Homo sapiens: one gene and its partners. Each later gene encodes a partner of the first gene's protein in a complex. Each region holds a gene or a part of one and is shown in the gene's direction. Other genes may lie near its edges.

Region 1 (7,027 bases):
CATAGGTAGACACCCCTCTTATAATTAAGCAAATAAAAATTTTAAAAAAGTGTTTGAGGCTGGGTGTAGTGGCTCATGCCTGTAATCTCAACACTTTGGGAGGCCAAAACGGTTGGATCATTTGAGGTCAGGAGTTCAAGTCCAGCCTGGCCAACATGGTGAAACCCCATCTCTACTAAAAATAAAAAAATTAGCCAGGTGTGGTGGCACACGACTGTAGTCCCAGCTGCTGGGGAGGCTGAGGCAGGAGAATCGCTTGAACCCAGGAGGCGAAGGTTGCAGTGAGCTGAGATTGCACCACTGTATTCTAGCCTAGGCGACAGAGTGAGACTCAGGAAAAAAAAAAAAAAAGCGATTGAACACATAAAAAACTAAGGGAAACTACGACAAGGGAATAGAATAAAGAAGATATTTTTAAAAACCTTAAAAAATTATTTTAGAATTTCACCTTAGTAACTGTGAATACAGCTTTTGTGCTTAGTTCTTTTTCACATATAATAGATAACCCTGTATAAAATTGCACACATAGATGTGTACAGCGCAAAGACTGGATTTTAAGTGGCATTTGTAGCTTGTCACAAGTTGTGAAAATACCAAATGCTTGTATTTTCAGATTTTATTGTTTCGAAAAATAATGGGCATTTTCCTCTTTGGTGTATTGTAGTCCAGTAACTCAAAGAAATGATAGGTTTGTGTAGATTTTTTTGTTCTCAACTAATTTGACACATATTAATTACTGTTGGGGAAAGTTAAGAAAAAATAGCATCAAATATTAGAGATTTGTTACTATCTTTGTAGATGTATTGAGGAATATTAATATATCAGAAATGTCTTTGGTTGACTTGGCATGTAGATAAATATATGCAATGTTGAAAGAATGATCTTAGCTTTAGAAAGTCTTTAAAGAAACCTTTAAATTCATTTTGAAAGGGGGAGGAGTTATTCAGATACCTAGTGTGTTGTGTATTTAGTCTATGTAAGTACTGCCCATGGATCATTGTGACTCTGGGAATTAGTCACATTACCGTTAGAAAACTATGAAATTCTGGGCCAGGCGCGGTGGCTCACACCTGTAATCCCAGCACTTTGGGAGGCCGAGGCGGGCAGATCACAAGGTCAGGAGTTCTAGACCAGCCTGGCCAACATGATGAAATCCCGTCTCTAGTAAAAATACAAAAATTAGCCAGGTGTGGTGGTTCATGCCTGTAATCCCAGCTAGTTTGTAGGCTGAGGCAGGAGAACTGCTTGAACCTGGGAGGCAGAGGTTGCAGTGAGCCGAGATCGTGCCACTGCACTCCAGCCTGGGCGACAGAGCAAGACTCCATCTCAAAAAAAAAAACAAAAAGCTGAAATTCTTGCCAGGCGCGATGGCTCATGCCTGTAATCCCAGCACTTTGGGAGGCCTAGGCAGGTGGATCACGAGGTCAGGAGTTCAAAACCAGCCTGGCCATGGTGGTGAAACTCTGTCTCTACTAAAAATTAGCTGGGTGTAGTGGCGCGCACCTGTAGTCCCAGCATTTTGGGAAGCCGAGGGTGGGCGGATCACCTGAGGCTAGGAGTTCGAGACAAGCCTGACCAACATGGAGAAACCCTGTCTGTACTAAAAATACAAAATTAGCTGGGCGTGGTGGCGCATGCCTGTAATCCCAATTACTCAGGAGGCTGAGGCAGGAGAATCGCTAGAACCCAGGAGGCAGAGGTTGTGGTGAGCCAAGATCACGCCATTGCACTCCAGCCAGGGCAACGAGAGCGCAACTCTGTCTCAAAAAAAAAAAAAAAAAAAATACACACACACACACACACACACACACAAATATCTCAAAAATAATCTCATTTTGAAAATGGCTTGTGCAGGGTACTTTTTAAAATTCGTACAACAAAACCTTAATCCCTAAATTGGAATTCTCTTAAACTTCAGTTAATCTTTTTTCAAAAACATAATAGATGATGGAGATTTCTAAATTTTCAAACCTCATTGGAATTTGTTGACACACACTTAAATACTCCATTTGTAAATGAATCTTAATAAAGCTGAGGCTCAATTCTGCACCTGGTCACTGAGATTACTTTGTACTATGCTGTCTGTATCAGAAGTGCTGTGAGGCCCAGGCGCTCTGAAAAATCTTTGAAGACACATGAGGATATTGTAGCCCTTTTTCCTGTTCCTGAAGGAGCTCCCTCAGTACACCACCCCCTCCTGACCTCTAGGTAAATGCATGTTTTGAAATTTTCTCTAGGAAATCATGTTCAGGATTGCTTTTTATTATTTTCCTCTTGGCTGTATTATATAAGAGGTCAGAGGTGGGAAATCATTAAACAAAAGAAAGTCTTAAATTTTTTTTTGTAATTGGGTGCCTTGAGAGTACACCTAATTGTGTCACTAAAGGAGCTCCATCAGCAGGAGAAAAGATTTACTGCTCAAAAAAAGTTAGCATTCCCTAAGAAATTACATTGTTTTTGTTTGCCATTTTGGGGGAAAAAACACATAATCAGAAATTGTGTTTTGAACAAGCTCTTTGAAGTGCCAGAATGTCTTAACATTTTTGAGAGAGTTGGTTCTGCCTTCTAATATTTAGAAAGCCAGCTTTCTGATCAGCCTTGAAAGTTATTAGTGTGTATTCATTTGTGACTGAATGAAGGTGGAGAATGGTGTCAAATCATTTTAATACTTTACAAACTTAAGTTAGTCTAGTTGGTGTTTGAGTATTGTAGACTTCCTAATATGTTTCTGACATACCTTTAGTGTTGTTTTGTGTCAGGGATTCTCAGGTGTTTTACATGTATTCTCATAACAGTTATTTGAGATAAGTACTGTTGTTATCCTCATTTCATAGAGAATGAAATGAAAACACAAAGCTATATGGAACTTTGTCATTACACACAGCTGGTTTTAATTTTTAAAAATAACTGAGTTTTTGACTCCTGTGCTTTATTTTTGACAATAAAAGTCTTTAAGATAACATAAGACTAATCACTTAGTGAATCTTACATTAAGTGCCAAACTCTTAAGCCATTTCTAAAAATGATTTGAATAATCTGCTTTTGGACTCTGGCAGCTTAGATTTGGAATGCTGCTTTTTGAAAATAAAAAGTTTTCCTTTTTACAGAACAGACTTCCATTAGATCTTCATTTTAGTTGAGAATATATTTGTAGTGCCAGTTCATCAAATTACTTAAGAGAAATCCAGTCTTGCCTCTTGATCTCAGAAAATTAGTTGGAGAACAGAGTATTTTTGAGTTAAATTTTAACTTTCCTCTTTTTCAGTTGGGATGAATGGGTTCCGGAGAGCAGAGTACTCAAATACGTGGACACCAATTTGCAGAAACAGCGAGAACTTCAAAAAGCCAATCAGTAAGTTTGTTTTGTGAACTGAATATTAAGGAGAAATGCCTGTAGATTAATTCTGGACATGGAATGAACAATGGAGATCATGTTGGCTGCCCTGCCTATAAAATGATTCCTGGTACCTTTCAGCTGCTGTGTTACAGCTTTGACTTCAAGCGATCAAGCCATATCTAGGTAAAGGAAGTAGCATACCTGCCATTACTTGAGCTTATCTTAGACCTAGGTAGAAAACAGCAGAATGTTGTTGGAAATTGCTATAGGTATGAACTCACTGATAAAAATCTTTATTTTCGGGGGCTCTGGAAGACAAATTTGGTGGGGAAACAAGCAAACGAGGCATTTCCTATTCTGCTTTTCATCTCTGAAAGCACGGGAAAAGGGACCCTGAAAGACTCTATGATTTATAGGGTAATCTCAAAGTTGAAATGTATTTTTAAAAAAATTAAAACGATGGCTGGGCGCAGTGGCTCACGCCTGTAATCCCAGCATTTTGGGAGGCCAAGGCGGGTGGATCACGAGGTCAGGAGATCAAGACCATCCTGGCTAACACGGTGAAACCCCGTCTCTACTAAAAATTCAAAAAATTAGCCGGGCATGGTGGCGGGCGCCTGTAGTCCCAGCTACTCCGGAGGCTGAGGCAGGAGAATGGCGTGAACCCGGGAGGCAGAGCTTTCAGTGAGCGGAGATCGCGCCACTGCAGTGTAGCCTGGGCAGCACAGTGAAACTCTGTCTCAAAAAAAAAAAAAAAAAGAATTAAAATGGTAATGGGAACAAATAAAACACTGGGATTAGTGAATTCCAAAACAAATGGAATTTTCAATGCTATGAGAACAGTCTATTACAGTCACTTTTTATTACATTGATTTTAATTGAGCCTTTTGCTGTTTCTTGAGTGTTTTGTTTGATTTTTGTGGAAATATCTCTGTCCAACTTGTTAAAAACTTGTTGCCAGAATTTGAATGTAAATTCCTAATGGAATCAGGCTGACAATTTTTTTTTCACATAAATGCTCATTTTATGTTGACATTACTGAAATTATTTTTGAAGGGAGCAGTATGCAGAGGGGAAGATGAGAGGGGCTGCCCCAGGAAAGAAGACATCTGGTCTGCAACAGAAAAATGTTGAAGTGTAAGAAGCTCTTTGTTTTGATTTTGCATACTATATGTGAAGATAATATTTTATGTTCATTGTGTGTTAGACTGTGTTGAAGTGGAAACTTTGGAACATTGTTGGAACCAGTAAGAATCCCATTCCTCAGGTATCAGGTCGTTAAAGTAGTTTAAAATAACGTATTCCTTAATTTTCCTCAGCAGGTTCCCCCTCCCTTTAACTTGTGTGTATAAATATATGTGTGTGATGTTTTCTCTTACAAAGATAGTACTAGTGGTTATAAGTTTTGAGATAACTTTTGGCAAGCCTTTTCAAACCTAAAAAGCAAGTGCTGGCAAGTGCTAAAAATACATACGAATTAACCTCCACTTTGGTGAAACTCATGGTAAGAATATGTGAGAAGTTAAGGTTTCAAATAACTGCCCTCCTCATCCCCACCCCTAAGAAAACCATTGCTTTTTTTTGAGACAGAGTTTCCCTCTTGTTGCCCAGGCTGGAGTGCAGTGGTGTGATCTGTGCTCACTGCAACCTCTGCCTCCTGGGTTCAAGTGATTCTCCTGCCTCAGCCTCCCAAGTAGCGGGGATTACAGGCGTGTGCCACCACGCCTGGCTGATTTTTGTATTTTTAGTAGAGATGGAGTTTCACCATGTTGGTCAGGCTGACCTCCTGACCTCAGGTGATCCACCTGCCTTGGCCTCCCAGAGTGCTGGGATTATAGGCGTGAGCCACTGCTCCTGGCACAAAACCATTACTTCTTGTTAACTCTAGATTTTAGAACATCTGATAAGAAGCCTAGAGTGAGAAAGTCATGTGCATGCATACATTTTGTATGTTTAAAGTTTATGTAGGACGGTGCGGTGGCTCACACCTGTAATCCCCCTACTTTGTTTGGGAGGCTGAGGCAGGAGAATGGTTTGAGCCCAGGAGTTTGAGACCAACTTGGGCAACATCGGGAGCCTCTGGTTCTACAGAAAAATAAAAAAATTAGCTCGGGGGTGGTGGCACATGCTTGTAGTCCCACCTATTCAGGAGGCCGATGTGGGAGGGTCACTTGAGCCCAGGAGGTCAAGGCTGCACTTTAGTCTTGGCGACTGAGTGAGATCCTGTCTTTTAAAAAGAAAAAAAAAAAAGTTGATGTACCTGAAAGTGGATGACAAGAGTGGTAACTTAATAAGTATTCTTAAGTATTTGTAATAATAAAAACAAAAATTATAACTTTTATTAAGAGGTCATTTTATTTCCTACCAGAATTACTGATCTGATTTTTCTACTTAAAAGTAAGGTGTTACACCCAGTGCTTTGGGAGGCTGAGGTGGGAGGGATTGCTTGAGGCCAGGAGTTCTAGGCTGCAGTGATCTGTGATTGCACCACTGCGCTCCAGCCTCTTAAAAAAAGTAAGGTGTTACTAATGAAGGTATTTAGTATTTAATGCATTTGGAGATGTTTGAAGCTTTTTATTTTTTTTTAAACTCTTTTTGGTGAGAAGATAATTGGCAAGGATTAAGTGTGTTACTATTTGAGGATTGTTCATAGTTTTAATAAGTGGTAACATGTTTTCATGATCTGGTTCTTTGGAAAACTGTAGTGTAGTATTTCATTAGGATTTAATAGTAATTATGTCTTAAAAGGCAGTAATTTTCTCTATATAGAAAAGATTTTTATCAAAAGTAATAGTTCATAACTAATTCTTTATCACTGTGCTAAGTTATTATATAGAAATCTTAAGTGGTAGTATGCCCATAAGTTATTTGCATTTGAATACAGCATTGTGCAGTCTCCACTACAAAAATAATGGCTGAGTAAATATATGAAGTAAAGCTTTAAAATTTAAATTTCCCATTCTTGAACAGTAGAAGCCTCTTCAAACTGGCTTCTGAGTCTTTTGAAGGATCCTCAGTCTAGACGTTTGAAGCATGAATGTCAAGCTCTTACTACTAGGACTTATTGAAGTGTATGGGTTGAATATCCCTTATCTGAAGTGTTTCGGACCAGAAGCGTTTCAGATTCCAGACTTTTTTTGGATTTTGAAATGTTTGCGTTATACTTACCTGTTGAACATCCCAAATCCAAAATGCTTCAATGAGCATTTCCTTTGAATGTCATGTTGGCTCAGAAAATTGGGATTTTTGGAGCATTTTGGCTTTGGGATGCTGAACTCATCTATATTTTATAGATCTTTTACTTTAGAGTTGAGATCACCTGTCAGTATTTTAGTTTTATATTACAGAGGTGAGTGGGTAAAGGATTGAGTGTGAAGACTATTGGTTTCTCTTGGTCTCCACATATTGACACGTGCAAGTAAAGTTCATGGTTGACTTTGACCGAGAAATACAGTCCAACAGATTTTTACAAAACTAACAGACAAGAGAAAACCTATACACAGATTTTTGTGTTTATATCCAAACATAAGTTAATTTGAATTGTCAAACCTTAAGACCTAAATTAAATGAATATATTTAATTAATAACATTTATAAGTATTATTTAAAGCTACAGAAAAGTAAAAAATCCAGGTGTTATAGTATCTTTCCATCGAAAGTAATCCATAATCATGGGCTCTATAAACTGTTT
Region 2 (7,027 bases), on another chromosome or scaffold:
AGAAAGAAGAAAAAGGAAAACCAAATACATTATTCAGTTGACTTAATGTACAAGTGACATTAAAAATTTTAATGATTATATGTCTGTGCTGGGAAATAATGTAATTTAGACTCACTAACATTATGTTCTCTGCAACCATTTTTATTTCTTTTTTACATCTACACAGGTTGTCGAAATAATAATTCCACAGCCTCTTCTAACAATGCCTACAATGTGAATTCCTCCCAACCTCTGGGATCCTATAACATTGGCTCGTTATCTTCAGGAACTGGTGCAGGGGCAATTACCATGGCAGCTGCTCAAGCAGTTCAGGCTACAGCTCAGGTAAAAAGTAAAGGGTTTAGAGACAAAATGTTACATTTTGTCGGAATCATTGGAAACCTAATAGAAATAACGGGATGTGAACAAATAGTTTTCTAACGTTGTATATTTTCATTTTTAAGTCATGATTTCACGATATGTGATATTTTATTTAATGAAATAATACATAGGAATTGCCTGATTGATAATGAAAACTAAAAAATAGGTTTATCATGCGGATTACATGCAGACCCTTCTCACAATAACTGCTCATGTTGCCCATGTTCTTGACTGCAGTCCACAGCACATGCTAGCATAGTTCTTCGTTCTTTCTGCCAGTTCCAAGGCTTCCCCTGTAGCCTTGGACTTAGGTCATCTTGAGTTTGTTCACTTCTGTATAGTTTGCCTATATTCCAAATTAAGAAGCTGCCCATCCCATAGTTTATATTCTAACTGTGTAAAATCTTATTTTAAATCTTTAAATGAAAAAGGTTAGGCCAGGCATGGTGACTCACACCTGTAATCCCAGCTCTTTGATAGGCCGAGGCAGGTGGATCACTTGAGGTCAGGAGTTCAAAACCAGCCTGGTCAACATGGTGAAACTCCATTTCTACTAAAAATACAAAAAAATTAGCTGGGTGCCTGGTGGGTGCCTGTAATCCCAGCTACTCGGTAGGCTATGGCAGGAGAATTGCTTGAACCTGAGAGGTGGAGGTTGCAGCGAGCCAAAATCGTGCCACTAGACTCCAGCCCAAGCGACAGATTGAAACTCCACCTCAAAAAAAAAAAAAAAAAAAAGCTTAAATTCCAGTGATGAAAATAATAGTTTAAACAATATAAATTAACATTTGATAAACCAAAATAAAACTATAATTTGTAAAACTTGAAAAAGAAAATCTACATATTTACATATATTGATGCTATCAATGAATGTCTATTTAAGATGAAGGAGGGACGAAGAACATCAAGTTTAAAAGCCAGTTATGAAGCATTTAAGAATAATGACTTTCAGTTGGGAAAAGAATTTTCAATGGCCAGGGAAACAGTTGGCTATTCATCATCTTCGGCACTTATGACAACATTAACACAGAATGCCAGTTCATCAGCAGCCGACTCACGGAGTGGTCGAAAGAGCAAGTAAGTTTTATTGTTACAGTAGCCCTATACCTTTACTGAACACTTGGTCTACTTGACACTTCAGCCAGGCCTCTCTATGTTAAAGGCAGGATATAACGGATTAAAATTAACCTTGCAGAGGTAGGGAGACATGCGGTTTTCATTTTATAGTGCCATACTTTGAAGGTGTCAAGTCTTTAAAAAGTGTTAGAGTTGTTTTTAATTTTTCTAGAGTCATAAATTGAGTTTGTTAATACATGACTTCTTTTTATCTTCTTTTATTCATTAAGATAAATCATTTTATGGAACTGCTTTTCATTTATTACCCTTTATTTTGCCATGTGTTTCAAGGTAAATTAATGCAATGCAAATTATATCCTGGTGATTTTTTTTTTTTAAACAAGATTTTTCATTTTGATTAACAGCAAGCAAGGCGTCTTCATTCTTAGTCTTGGGTCCCAAAAACTGATGGTGTAAAAATATCCCTAGATTTTGTATATGAGACTTGGGATGACTGTATAAGCTTTAAATATGAAAACCTAATAGCATTTATCACTGTCTATCCCAGGTAACTGAATATGCTGGGTGTTTATACATAATGAAAGTTCAAATGCTAGGCCAAAATAATTAGTTACCTAGTAGTTATATTTTCTGTATTTTAAAATATGTTATATTTTTTGTGAATTAATCCCTTAAAGAACGATCAATATGAAATAACCACAACAGAAGTGTCAAACATCTTAAAAATTAATTCATCTTAATGGTACAAGTTTAATGTAATTTCTTATGATAAAGTTCTATACTTTTAGAATTTAAATAGCATAGGGCTTAGCAGTAAATTACTTGTGAATTTTTACAGTCTTGGTTCCCTGCCATACTCATGGTAGGTATTCACACATCAGTTGATGGTTATAACCACTTTCATCAAATGTTTTTGTGTGTGTGTGCTTTAGGTTTTGATGAAGAGTATTCAGTTTACTTAAAAATACGAATAATGAGTGGCTGGGCGGGGTGGCTCATGCCTATAATCCCAGCACTTTGGGAGGCCGAGGTGGGCAGATCACGAGGTCAGGAGATCGAGACCATCCTGGCTAACACGATGAAACCCCATCTCTACTAAAAATACAAAAAATTAGCCAGGCATGGTGGCGGGCGCCTGTAGTCCCAGCTACTCGGGAGGCTGAGGCAGGAGAATGGCGTGAACCTGGGAGGTGGAGCTTGCGGTGTGCAGAGATCGCGCCACTGCACTCCAGTCTGGGCAACAGAGCGAGACTCCATCTCAAAAAAAAAAAAAAAATACAAATAATGTCTGTAAAGTAGCCAGAACTTATGTTAATTCTTCAAAGTACTACCTACAATTTAAGTCATTGGTAAATCCGGATTACTTTAGCTTACACTTTAATTTATACATTTGATGTCATTTCATTTTATACTATTTATTTAGGAGTTATTCTCAGTTAACTTCTGGATGGTGAGCAAATAAAACTTATACTATTTTTTTCAGAAACAACAACAAGTCTTCAAGCCAGCAGTCATCATCTTCCTCCTCCTCTTCTTCCTTATCATCGTGTTCTTCATCATCAACTGTTGTACAAGAAATCTCTCAACAAACAACTGTAGTGCCAGAATCTGATTCAAATAGTCAGGTTGATTGGACTTACGACCCAAATGAACCTCGATACTGCATTTGTAATCAGGTAAAAGTCTGTTATATCTATAAAAGTATAATCTGAATAAACTAGAAGGAAGAGAACTATTTCATTTTTAAGCACTTTTTTAAACTCACTTAAAATACCTTTGCTTTATTTGTATACTTTTCTCCCCCTTCTTACAAAAGTGACATTTGCTGTAAATACTGAGTATAAAGAAAAATGTTACCCATAATCCTAGCCCTCAGATACAACCTGTAACTAAACATTTTTGGTATACCACTACCATATACCTCATGTGCACATTGGCTGCCTTAATAAAATACAACAGACTGGGTAGCTTAAACAACAGAAAATAATTTTCTCACAGGTATGAAGGCTGGGAAGTCCAAGATCAAGGTGTCCACTGACTCAGTTCTGGAGGAGGGCTCCCTTCCTAGATGGAGACTGCTGCCTTCTCACCGGGTCCTCACATGATAGAGGGAGAAAGAGTGTGCTCTGGTGTCTTTTCTTATAAGGGCACCAGCCTTGTCAGAGTAGGACCCCACTCTATGACCTCATTTAACCTTTACCACCTCCTCACAGGCCCTGTTTCCAATTATAGTCACGTTGGGGGTTAGGGCTTCAACATATGATTTTGAGACATAAGCTTGCATTTCATAACACGTGTCTATGCAGATTTGCACATGCATGTGTGTATAAGTTTGTCAGTAGGAACCACAGTGTATACTTTCTTGTTACTGGCTTTTTTCTCTAAATCAGGTATACCGAACATGATTTTTCTTTAAGATCATATTTTTAATTTTCACATAGTTATCTCTTATGCCATCCAGTGTAGTTTTCTTAACCAATACCTAGCTATAGATTATATTAGTGGTTTTAATTTGTTTGAAATTAGGGATAATATTACGATAGGCATTTTTTAAATGTAATCCATTTTATACATCTAATTTCTTGGATAATCTTTTAGAAATAAAATTAGGCTGTAAATATTTGACAGACACCAAAATATATTTTCTAGAAATTTATTACCAAAAATTAATAAACATACCGGTTTACTAAACCCTGTCCAACACTGGATATTATTTTCTTTTAAAAACTAAGTACCAATTTGGTAGTTTTATATTATGATTGTTTTAAATACACTAGTATTATTGAAGTTGGACATTTTTTGACCATTTTTGTTTTTTACATTATGAATCGACTCCTAATGGTGTCGGCTGATTTTTCTATTGTTTTTGTTATGTACTCTAAATATTTGCTTGATTTAGTTTTTTAAAAATAATTCTAAAATTTTAATTTTATGTAGTTATGACTGTTAATTTTTTTTTATGAAGCAAGCCATGGATTATATACTTAGAAGGGCTTTCTCTTTGGCTCTTCTTTCTACAAAAAATTGTCTTGTATAATATTTTCTCCTAGTTTTTATATGGTTTTGTCTAGTTCTTTGCATGCTTCAGTTTCTTCACATTTAAGACTTAGTCTATCAGCAGATTATTGTGTCTAACAGTATGAGTTGCCAGTCTGATTTTTAAAAATTTTAACAATTTGTTAGCTGTTCCACTATCACCCGATAAACATTTTTCAGTACAAATGATAGAAAAGCATATCCTGTATCCTGACAACAAAAGTAGATTACTTGCAAAAGAACAAAATCAGACTGAACCTAGAGTTTTCCTCTGTAACACTAAAAAACTAGAAGGTGATGGAATATGTCTGTAGAGCTTTCAGGGAAAAATTAAGAGCCCCCAAAAACTTGATATTCAGAGAAGTTATTTCTCTGCATAGGACCATGTAAATATATTTTCACTCATGCAGAGAATCAGAAGATATGCCATCTAGTTAATCCTGTCTGAAAAATTATTCAATCCACTGAGAACTTCAGTGAACTCAAGAATTAGCAAGTTATGCCCTAAAGTGCTGGTGATGAAGAGCAAAAGAAAAATGAGAAAGGACATAAAATAGATAAGTTTAGAAGTTTCAAGGAAGGAGACTATTAATTGCAAAAATATAAATGACCTAATGTGACCCAAGAAGTAAAAACTTTCAGTAAGTAAATAATCAAGAAAGGAACTTAAAATTTTTACAATAAGAACTACCCAGAAAGATGACTCCTTCATCCGGGTGATTTATATGTCAAGTTCTTCCAGACTTCTGAAGGGCAGATAATTCCTGTGCATTTCTTCCCACCCTTGCCCCACCCTGCCCAAAAGAGTATTTCAGGAAAAAATTATTATACCTTGATTCTCAATGTAATTGTATATTCAGTGTATTTCCCTTTATTTTCCAGCAGTATCATACATAAACAGTTAATTGGTATCTAGGTGTTTGTTACATAGTCATAATAAAGACATTTAATTTTTTTTAACTAGGTATCTTATGGTGAGATGGTGGGATGTGATAACCAAGATGTAAGTATTACATTTTTCTATTTAGGAATGAAAAAAATCACAGGTTGTTATTACTTGAATATTTGTCTTATTTGCTGTATGGTTTGGTCTAAGAAAACAGGTTTGCAGGTATATTAGTTATATTATGCTAATGCTAGAATATTCCTCTTCAAAATAGGGTAGTGTCCCTTAATGTGTTCCCTATTTTAATTTTTAAAGCTAATTTTATGGTTTTATGTGCAGATTGTCTCAGAAGTGTTATGTTGTATGAAAATTATAAATACCCTCCTTTCCCTTTACTAAAAAATACTGTGTTTACTAGAATCCAGTTCATTTATCACATTGAAGAAATGGAATTTTAAAACAATTCATTCTTTCAGGCTGCACCGTGCTAAAGTGAAGGGTGGGATAATTGAGGATCTAATGTGAGATTATCTTCCTCTCATGAGTATAATATTTTTTCCTGTACTCTGCAGGTGTCAGCTGATAAGAGCCACCCCTGATCTAAAAAGTAAAGGAAATTTGAAAGGAAGGAATTCTTGGTTTTTAGGAGACTTAATTTTAGTTAGAGATACGTTTTTTATTCAATACTGAGAATATTGTTGTCTAGTAATTTTGACTCCCTCCTTATTTAGTAGTGACAGGATCCTAAGATTAACAAGAGTTTTAAATTTGTAAAACAATCTGAAGATTGAGGGAGCTGGCTAGGTGCATTAAAATGTGTACTTTTCCTAGACCTGATAGGGTTACAGCAACATGCTCACGTAGATTGGGACAGAGCCTCCTTCTGTTTCCCTGTCTAGAATCCCTTGTAGGCTGTTTGTGGTTGTTGCAAAAACAATATTGCCCAACCATTTCAAGAACATCACTGTAAACTCTTCTGGGGCAGTTAGTGAAAATGATGAATGAGATTTCTATGAGTACCAGCATCATGCTTCTCTGATTCTTCTTATTCCCAGTTGTGCTCTTCTGAGTGCTAAGACTTTCATGAAAGAGTTTTCTGCTTAATATGTTTCAAAGAGGAATAATTTTTCTCTACATTTCAAGGAATAGAAACACCCACGTAGGAAATGCAGGGCATAAGACATAAATTAATGTCTTTAATTACAATCAGCTTATTCTACTTTATGAGACAGCAAATAAGGCTGACTATTAAATAAAATCTTAAGTTATATTTACCTTCTACATAGAAGATTCATCCCACTTCTTTTTGCCCTTGAAAGCTGAAAACTAGTGAATTTTCATTCATTAGGATGAGGGGACTAGATTACATGGACCTCAGGATTCTTGAAGATGCATAATTTTTCTGTGCCTTCATTTCCTCATTCCTGAAGCTTATCATTTAGTCTAAATGATGTCTAAATAATCTAGATCTAAAAATTCTGATGTCACACATCTAATTATTGTTAAATTAAATGGATTATTCAGTCTCCTGAGCATATTTTAATATACTCTCTTGTCTTCAGAAGTACTGAAAACTTGTTTTTTGCAATTTTGCTTTCTAGTGCCCTATAGAATGGTTCCATTATGGCTGCGTTGGATTGACAGAGGCACCAAAAGGCAAATGGTACT
Region 3 (7,027 bases), on another chromosome or scaffold:
AAAATGTACCATTGTAGTAAACAGAAAAAGAGAGCCACTTTTGCGTTAGACTAAGTAGGCACACCAGTGTTTCTAGAGAGGGGAGGGAAATCTGTGTAACATGGAGGAATTATTGCACTCAGCAGTATAAATCATATAGGCCAGGTGCAGTGGCTCACGCCAATAATCCCAGCACTTTGGGAGACTCAGGTAGGAGGATTGCTTGAGACCAGGAGTTTGAGAACAACCCGGGCAACATAGGGAGACCCTGTCTCTACTAAAAACAACAAAAAATTAGCCTGTCACAGTGGCATGTGCCTGTAGTCCCAGCTACTAGAGAGGCTAAGGCAGGAGGATCACTTGAGCCCTGGAGGTTGAGGCTGCAGTAAGCCTTTGAGGGCACTACTGCACTCCAGCCTGGGCGACAGAGCAAGACCCTGTCTCAAAAAAAATAAAGTTGATCATATAACCTATGCTCTTAAGATTTTTTGTACTGTTACTTTTTGTCTGCATTTTAATATTATGCTAATTTTAAATGAACTGCTAGTTAAACCAGTTGTGTTTTTTAGGTTACACAAAACTTCCTTTTAAATGGTTTGACTACCTCAGGGAAACTGGCTCCATTGCAGCACCAGTAAAACTATTTAATAAGGTAAATTTAAATGGCAGCATAATTATGTGAGGACTTATTAATGCCCCACAAATACAATTTATGTTCATAAAAATGTCTTTGCCTTGTATTAGAATTTCTTAGTGGAGATATAATATAAACAAATATAGCAATGAAACAATATAAATATTTTCTTTACCTAGGAATCAAAACTTGTTTCCAAACTATGTTTCGTTTTTAATCTGAAGGAAATAGAAATGAAGATTTTTCCTAACTAGTTTTTAAATACTTCACCTTCGTACTATGTTTAAATAGTTAAAGAATTATTTGGAATTTATGGTTTATAATTATGTTATTTAGCTAGTCGCTTCTGTTTTTTGCTTTCTTAGTGATAGTAGGGTTGTGCATTCTTTCTTCTTCATACCAATATTAATGTTTTCTTCTCTGTGTCAGGATGTTCCAAATCACGGATTTCGTGTAGGAATGAAATTAGAAGCAGTAGATCTCATGGAGCCACGTTTAATATGTGTAGCCACAGTAACTCGAATTATTCATCGTCTCTTGAGGATACATTTTGATGGATGGGAAGAAGAGTATGATCAGTGGGTAGACTGTGAGTCACCTGACCTCTATCCTGTAGGGTGGTGTCAGTTAACTGGATATCAACTACAGCCTCCAGCATCACAGTGTAAGTTGGTATACAGAAAAGGTGTCCTTTTGTAAAAATCAGCAATTCTCCAGAGGACTATCTCACATAAGTCATCTTATGAGCTCACAGGACAAGAATATACCTATGTCTGATTGGTTGCCAGGTAAGACATTAAGACTCAACAACAATATCACAGAATCAGACCATGTGTCCCATGGCAATGTGAATCCAATAGTCAATTACATAATGACTATAGAAACACAACAGTCACCAAATTAAACTAGACTTACTATTTTAGTGAGTTAAAAATTACATACTAAAAGTTTATTGGTAGGTAATAAATGCTTTTGAGTAAATAGTGGAAAATGTCTCATGTTGAGGCTATGGTTTTGTAGGAACAAGTACCCTTATTTTCAGAGCATCATGTACTTAAGTATAATGGTCTTGGTAAAGATAGTTCATATAAGTTGTATCTAGACAACTGTATCGTCTAAATTGTAAACAATTATCTAGTACCAATTTTCCCTTTTTATTTTTCAGCATCAAGAGAAAACCAATCAGCTTCATCAAAACAGAAGAAAAAGGCTAAGTCCCAGCAATACAAAGGACATAAGAAAAGTGGGTCACCACGTGGTGTTCACATACATTTTCTAATTGTTAACTAATTGGAGTCACAGTATTCTTGGACAGAAAATGATATATCTTGTGAGAACTGATGATTGTGCATTATGTATTATGCTTAAAGGTGCAGTATGCCATAAAAGGCAAACCCTTGCAATAATGAGAAACACTGATATTTTACTAACAGGAGAAATTATTACCACAGTATTTAAAGTATACGTGGTAAAGAATAGAGTCTGTGAATGATTCTTGAAATAATATGTAAAACCTACTGAAAGTTAATCCTTTTTAAAAACTTTATTTAAAAAGAAAAATTAGCAGCCAGGTGCAGTGGCTCACGCCTGTAATCCCAGCACTTTAGGAGGCCGAGGCTGGCAGATCACAAGGTCAGGAGATCGAGACCATCCTGGCTAACACGGTGAAACCCTGTCTCCACCAAAAATACAAAAAATCTGCCGGGCGTGGTGGCACACGCCTGAAGTCCCAGCTACTCAGGAGGCTGAGGCAAGAGAATCACTTGAACCCAGGAGGCAGAGGTTGCAGTGAGCCAAGATCACGCCACTACATTCCAGCTGGGCAACACAGCAAGACTCTGTCTCAAAAAAAAAAAAAAAAATTAGCAGATGCTTGATGCTTACAGTAGATGTGAAGCCTAATAAACCCATTTTTCCTAGAAAGCAAAACTTTCTAGAGTGATACTGGTAAGAAATCCAAGTTGATGGCAAACAAGCTTTACCAAATTTTTCTAGAAATGCTTTCTATACTAAAAAATTAGCCGGGTGTGGTGGTGCACGCCTGTAATCCCAGCTACTTGGGAGGCTGAGGCAGGAGAATTGCTTGAACCCAGGAGGCGGAGGTTGAGGTGAGCCGAGATCGTGCCATTGCACTCTAGCCTGGGCAACAAGAGCAAAACTCCATCTCGAAAAAAAAAAAAAAAAAGAAATTCTTTCTATACTATATTTTACCTTACAGTGAATTGTTGGCATAAGCCAAAGTAATATAAAATATATTGATAACTATGTTTGATTTTTTTTATCTTATTTCCCCACCATAGAAAGCCATAGCTTTCTCTCTTCATAAAACTTGTCATAGAATGTTTCATTCTTTTTTGAGACAAGGCCTTACTTTGTTGCTCAGGCTGGAATGGAGTGCAGTGGCACAATCTCCGCTCACTACAGCCTTAACCTTCCCTGGCTCAAGCAGTCCTCCCACCCCAGCCTCCTGAGTAGCTTGGACCACAGGCATGTGTTGCCACACACCCAGCTAAGTTTTGTATTTTTTTGTAGAGACAGAGTCTTGCCACGTTGCCCAGGCTGGTCTCAAACTTTTGGGCTCAAGCACTCTGCCCACCTCAGCCTCCCAAAGTGCTGGGATTACAGGCATGAGCCACCACACATGGCCATATTTCATTTCATTCTTAGATAAGGTTATATATATATATATATATATTTTTTTTTTTTTTTTTTTTTTTTTTTTTTGAGACAGAGTCTCAGTCTGTCGCCCAGACTGGAATGCAGTGGTATGATCTTGGCTCACTGCAGCCTCGACTTCTCGGGTACAAGCAATTCTCCCACCTCAGCCCCTGGAGTAGCTGGGACTACAGGAGTATACCACCATGCCCAACTCGTTTTTATATTTTTATAGAAATGGTGTCTCACCATATTACCCAGGCTGGTCTCAAACTCCTGGGCTCAAGCGATCCATCTGCCTGCCTTGGTCTCCCAAAGTGCTGGGATTACAGGTGTGATCCTCTGAGTCTGGCCAATTTTTATTTAAAGATATTTTTTAAATTGGACTGGACGCGGTGGCTCATGCCTGTAATTAATCCCAGCAACTTTGGGAGGCCAAGGCGGATGGCTTTAGACCAGCCTGGGTAACATGGCAAGACCCCATCTCTAAAAACAAAAAAAGGAAGAAAAAAGCAAGCTATTTAAAAAATGTAAAAGTATACTTGAGGATTAAAACTGAAACAGATTTTTCCAGCTGACTTGCCAAATATGCTCAGGTACGTGCTGATTTGCCTCATTAACAACCTAGAGACTGAAGTGGCAAGAAGAATCGAATATACTCTGTTCTAACCTTTCTGATGTTTGCTTGTTAAGTGGGAAACTTAAAAATTTCTACTGTCCACTATAGTAGTACTTTGAAAAATAAGTTTTCTCCCAGCACAAAACCCATGTCAGCCACACACAAGTAGCAACCTACAGGCCTGTCTCTTGACCTCTCGTTTATAGGCACAAGCCTCCCACAGGCCCAGAATTATTTTGCCCACCAGCTGCTTGCCAGGTCTGATACTCACCTAAAAGAACTTTAGGGAGCATTGCCAAACCAGCCTGATGAAAGGGAGTTCTCATGTATCTAAATGAGTAGCAAGAATTCACATGGGAACTTCATTTATGTCAGTGGACTGACAATAGCAGATATGATCACTAAGCTTTCTGTGAAGTAAATAACAAGTCTGCTTTCACTTTCTGTTGGATAAGACTTTGGAATTTCAGAATTTTCTTTCCAAGATGTCAAATTAAAAATGGTTTTTATTACTCAGTGGCTATATGACATTGCTTTTTAGAACTTATCTGTGAGTTTTATGTAGACAATTCATTTGCCTCCCTCAGCGTGACTCTTGTAGGATTTGTTTCTGATTTGTGGAGTTAAAACTGTTTTGAATTAATGGGCTGGGAACATGGAAAGAAATATGTAATTAATGAAGAAATATTAGCACCCCAGTTTTTAGTGATATTTACCATTACTAGAGTTCTGGATTCACTGAAAAAATGAATTTTGGTCTATATGCAACATATTCCTTAACTATAATGTTTCACTATTTCCTAATAGTATGACATCATCTCTACTACCTTTAAATTGTCCTTTGGACATAGAAAAGAAAAGAACTATGGACCCACAGTACCTCATTAGATGCCCTTGGGACCAGATGTGCATTGGAATTCAGAATTTTTTGGATTTTAGAAGAGAAATATAGTCTGTGTAACATACATTATGTAACACTCCAGACTCTGAAACATTTTTAAAGCAAATATATATATAAATATTTACATTAAATGGCCCAAATAAAAATTATAAGTAGTGTCACCAAGTGAGGTACGGCTTTGTTGCCAAAGTTCTTTTTAAAAAAACTTCCTGAGGCCAGGCACGGTGGCTCACGCCTATAATCCCAGCACTTTGGGAGGCCGAGGCAGGCGGATCACCTGAGGTCAGGAGTTCGAGACCAGCCTGACCAACATGGAGAAACCCCGTCTCTACTAAAAATGCAAAATTAGCCAGGCGTGGTGGCGCATGCCTGTAATCCCAGCACTCGGGAGGCTGAGGCAGGAGAATCGCTTGAACCTGGGAGGCGGAGGTTGCAGTGAGCCGAGATCGCGCCATTGCACTCCAGCCTGGGCAACAAGAGCAAAACTCCCTCTCAAAAAAAAAAAAAAAAAAAAAAACCTATTTGAATGTTGGAATTGAGGATAAGGAAGTATAGTGCCGTATTAAGAAGCAGCAGTTTTCACTCTAATGGTGCCGCCGCCTCTTATTTTTTTCTATTACTCAGCAGTTTGTTAGAAAGTTTTCTCACTAAGCTTTAGTTACACAAATAAGTATTTGGGGTTTAGAAACCTGTCATCCATTGCAGGCAGACTGATATAAATACCAGATGGGCTATAAAACCTTTTGTTTTTACGTTTGCCTTGGTAGGTTATCATATTCTGGCTCTGTTGCTTCATCTTACAGCTCGTTGGTCTTTTTGAACTTAAGATCATCTGTTAGTGGTATATTCTTTGGCAGTGCTTATTGTACAGAAACAGCTGATGAGCTTCATTGGTCTAGCTTGCTTTGTAGTAAGTTGTGTTCATGCCACGAAGGAGGGATAATTACTGACACTTTTGAGAATAAGTATAAGGTTCTGCCAGAAGGATCATAGACACTCTCTAGTCTCAAAAGCCTCTTTTCCTTAAGATGTAATTCTAGAGCAGGAAAAGCAGTACTGATTTCTGCTTTAAATCTCACCATTTTCAGGGACTACTGTAAGTAGTAAGAGTGGACATTGCTCCTTGCGTTTTTATCTGTGAGTATGTGGTATATTAGGAAAAAGTCTTAAGTTGTTGCTGCATGTGATTTTGGTTTGGCTCTTGAGAGTTGAATCTACTCAATAACAGCTTAAATCCCACATCATTTTACATAGGAATACTGTGTGGCTTACATTTACCTTTTAGTTTTGATTTTGTGAAGCATAATTTTTTATTGCTCTTACTCGGTTTATTCTGTCATCTGGAAGAAAACAGACATAACTCAGTCACAAAGATAAAGATCCCTTTGCTTTTTTTTTTTTTTTCTTTCTTTCTTTCTTTTTGAGACAGAGTCTTGCTCTGTCTCCCAGGCTGGAGTGCAGTGGTGCACTGTCGGCTCGCCACAACCTCTGCCTCCCGGATTCAAGCGATTCTCCTGCTTCAGCCTCCCAAGTAGTGGGATTACAGGTGTGCACCACTACTTACGGCTAATTTTTGTATTTTTAGTAGAGACGGGGTTTCACTATGTTGGCCAGGCTGGTCTTGAACTCCTGACCTCAAGTGATCCACCTGCCTCGGCCTCCCAAAGTGCTGGGATCATAGGTGTGAGCCACTGTACCCTGCTGATCCTTCAGCTTTCAATATGATTAATGCACTATGCCTGGTTCTTCAATATTTGCAGAGTTCAGAGTATTTTTTTTGGTTGGCAAAAGCATTGTACATGTCTTGGAAGGCTTATATTTGTATAGAAAACTATAGCTGAAGGGTGATACTTTTTTTTTTTTTTTTTTGAGACAAGGTCTCACTTTATTGCCCAGCCTGGAGCACTGTGGTGCAATCATAGCTCACTGCAGCCTTGAACCCTTGGGCTCAAGCAAATCTCCCACATCAGACTCCAGCATTGCCCAGCAATTTTTTTTTATTTTTTGTAGAGATGGGTCTCACTGTGTTGCCCAGGCTGGTCTGAAACTCCTGGCCTGAAGCCATCCTCATTCTTCTGCCTTGGCATCCCAAGGTGCTGGGATTACAGGCATAAGCCACCATGCCCAGCCTGATAAATTTGTTTCAGAATAAATCAGATTGCTTAAGAATTTACAGGCAATAAGCTTTGAATTTGGAAGTACATTTTAGAATAAGAATTGTGTTTTCTAAAAGAGTGAA

Evidence for each region. Proteins that work in one complex are often made in the same cells at the same time.
Region 2: MORF4L1 (region 1) and ING3 share a complex: the UniProt entries of both Homo sapiens proteins name them as parts of the nuA4 histone acetyltransferase complex.
Region 3: MORF4L1 (region 1) and MBTD1 share a complex: the UniProt entries of both Homo sapiens proteins name them as parts of the nuA4 histone acetyltransferase complex.

What each region holds. Positions count from the first base shown.
Region 1 is NC_000015.10:78,882,876-78,889,902, forward strand, and holds part of MORF4L1 (mortality factor 4-like protein 1), read left to right. Parts: intron 1-2,091; coding exon of another isoform or gene 2,092-2,208; intron 2,209-3,265; coding exon 3,266-3,352; intron 3,353-4,393; coding exon 4,394-4,474; intron 4,475-7,027. UniProt on the Homo sapiens protein: Component of the NuA4 histone acetyltransferase (HAT) complex which is involved in transcriptional activation of select genes principally by acetylation of nucleosomal histones H4 and H2A.
Region 2 is NC_000007.14:120,967,768-120,974,794, forward strand, and holds part of ING3 (inhibitor of growth protein 3), read left to right. Parts: intron 1-166; coding exon 167-324; intron 325-1,243; coding exon 1,244-1,437; intron 1,438-2,920; coding exon 2,921-3,113; intron 3,114-3,433; exon of another isoform or gene 3,434-3,578; intron 3,579-5,437; coding exon 5,438-5,476; intron 5,477-6,960; coding exon 6,961-7,027. UniProt on the Homo sapiens protein: Component of the NuA4 histone acetyltransferase (HAT) complex which is involved in transcriptional activation of select genes principally by acetylation of nucleosomal histones H4 and H2A.
Region 3 is NC_000017.11:51,187,032-51,194,058, reverse strand, and holds part of MBTD1 (MBT domain-containing protein 1), read left to right. Parts: intron 1-548; coding exon 549-631; intron 632-1,042; coding exon 1,043-1,277; intron 1,278-1,778; coding exon 1,779-1,856; intron 1,857-7,027. UniProt on the Homo sapiens protein: Chromatin reader component of the NuA4 histone acetyltransferase complex, a multiprotein complex involved in transcriptional activation of select genes principally by acetylation of nucleosomal histones H4 and H2A.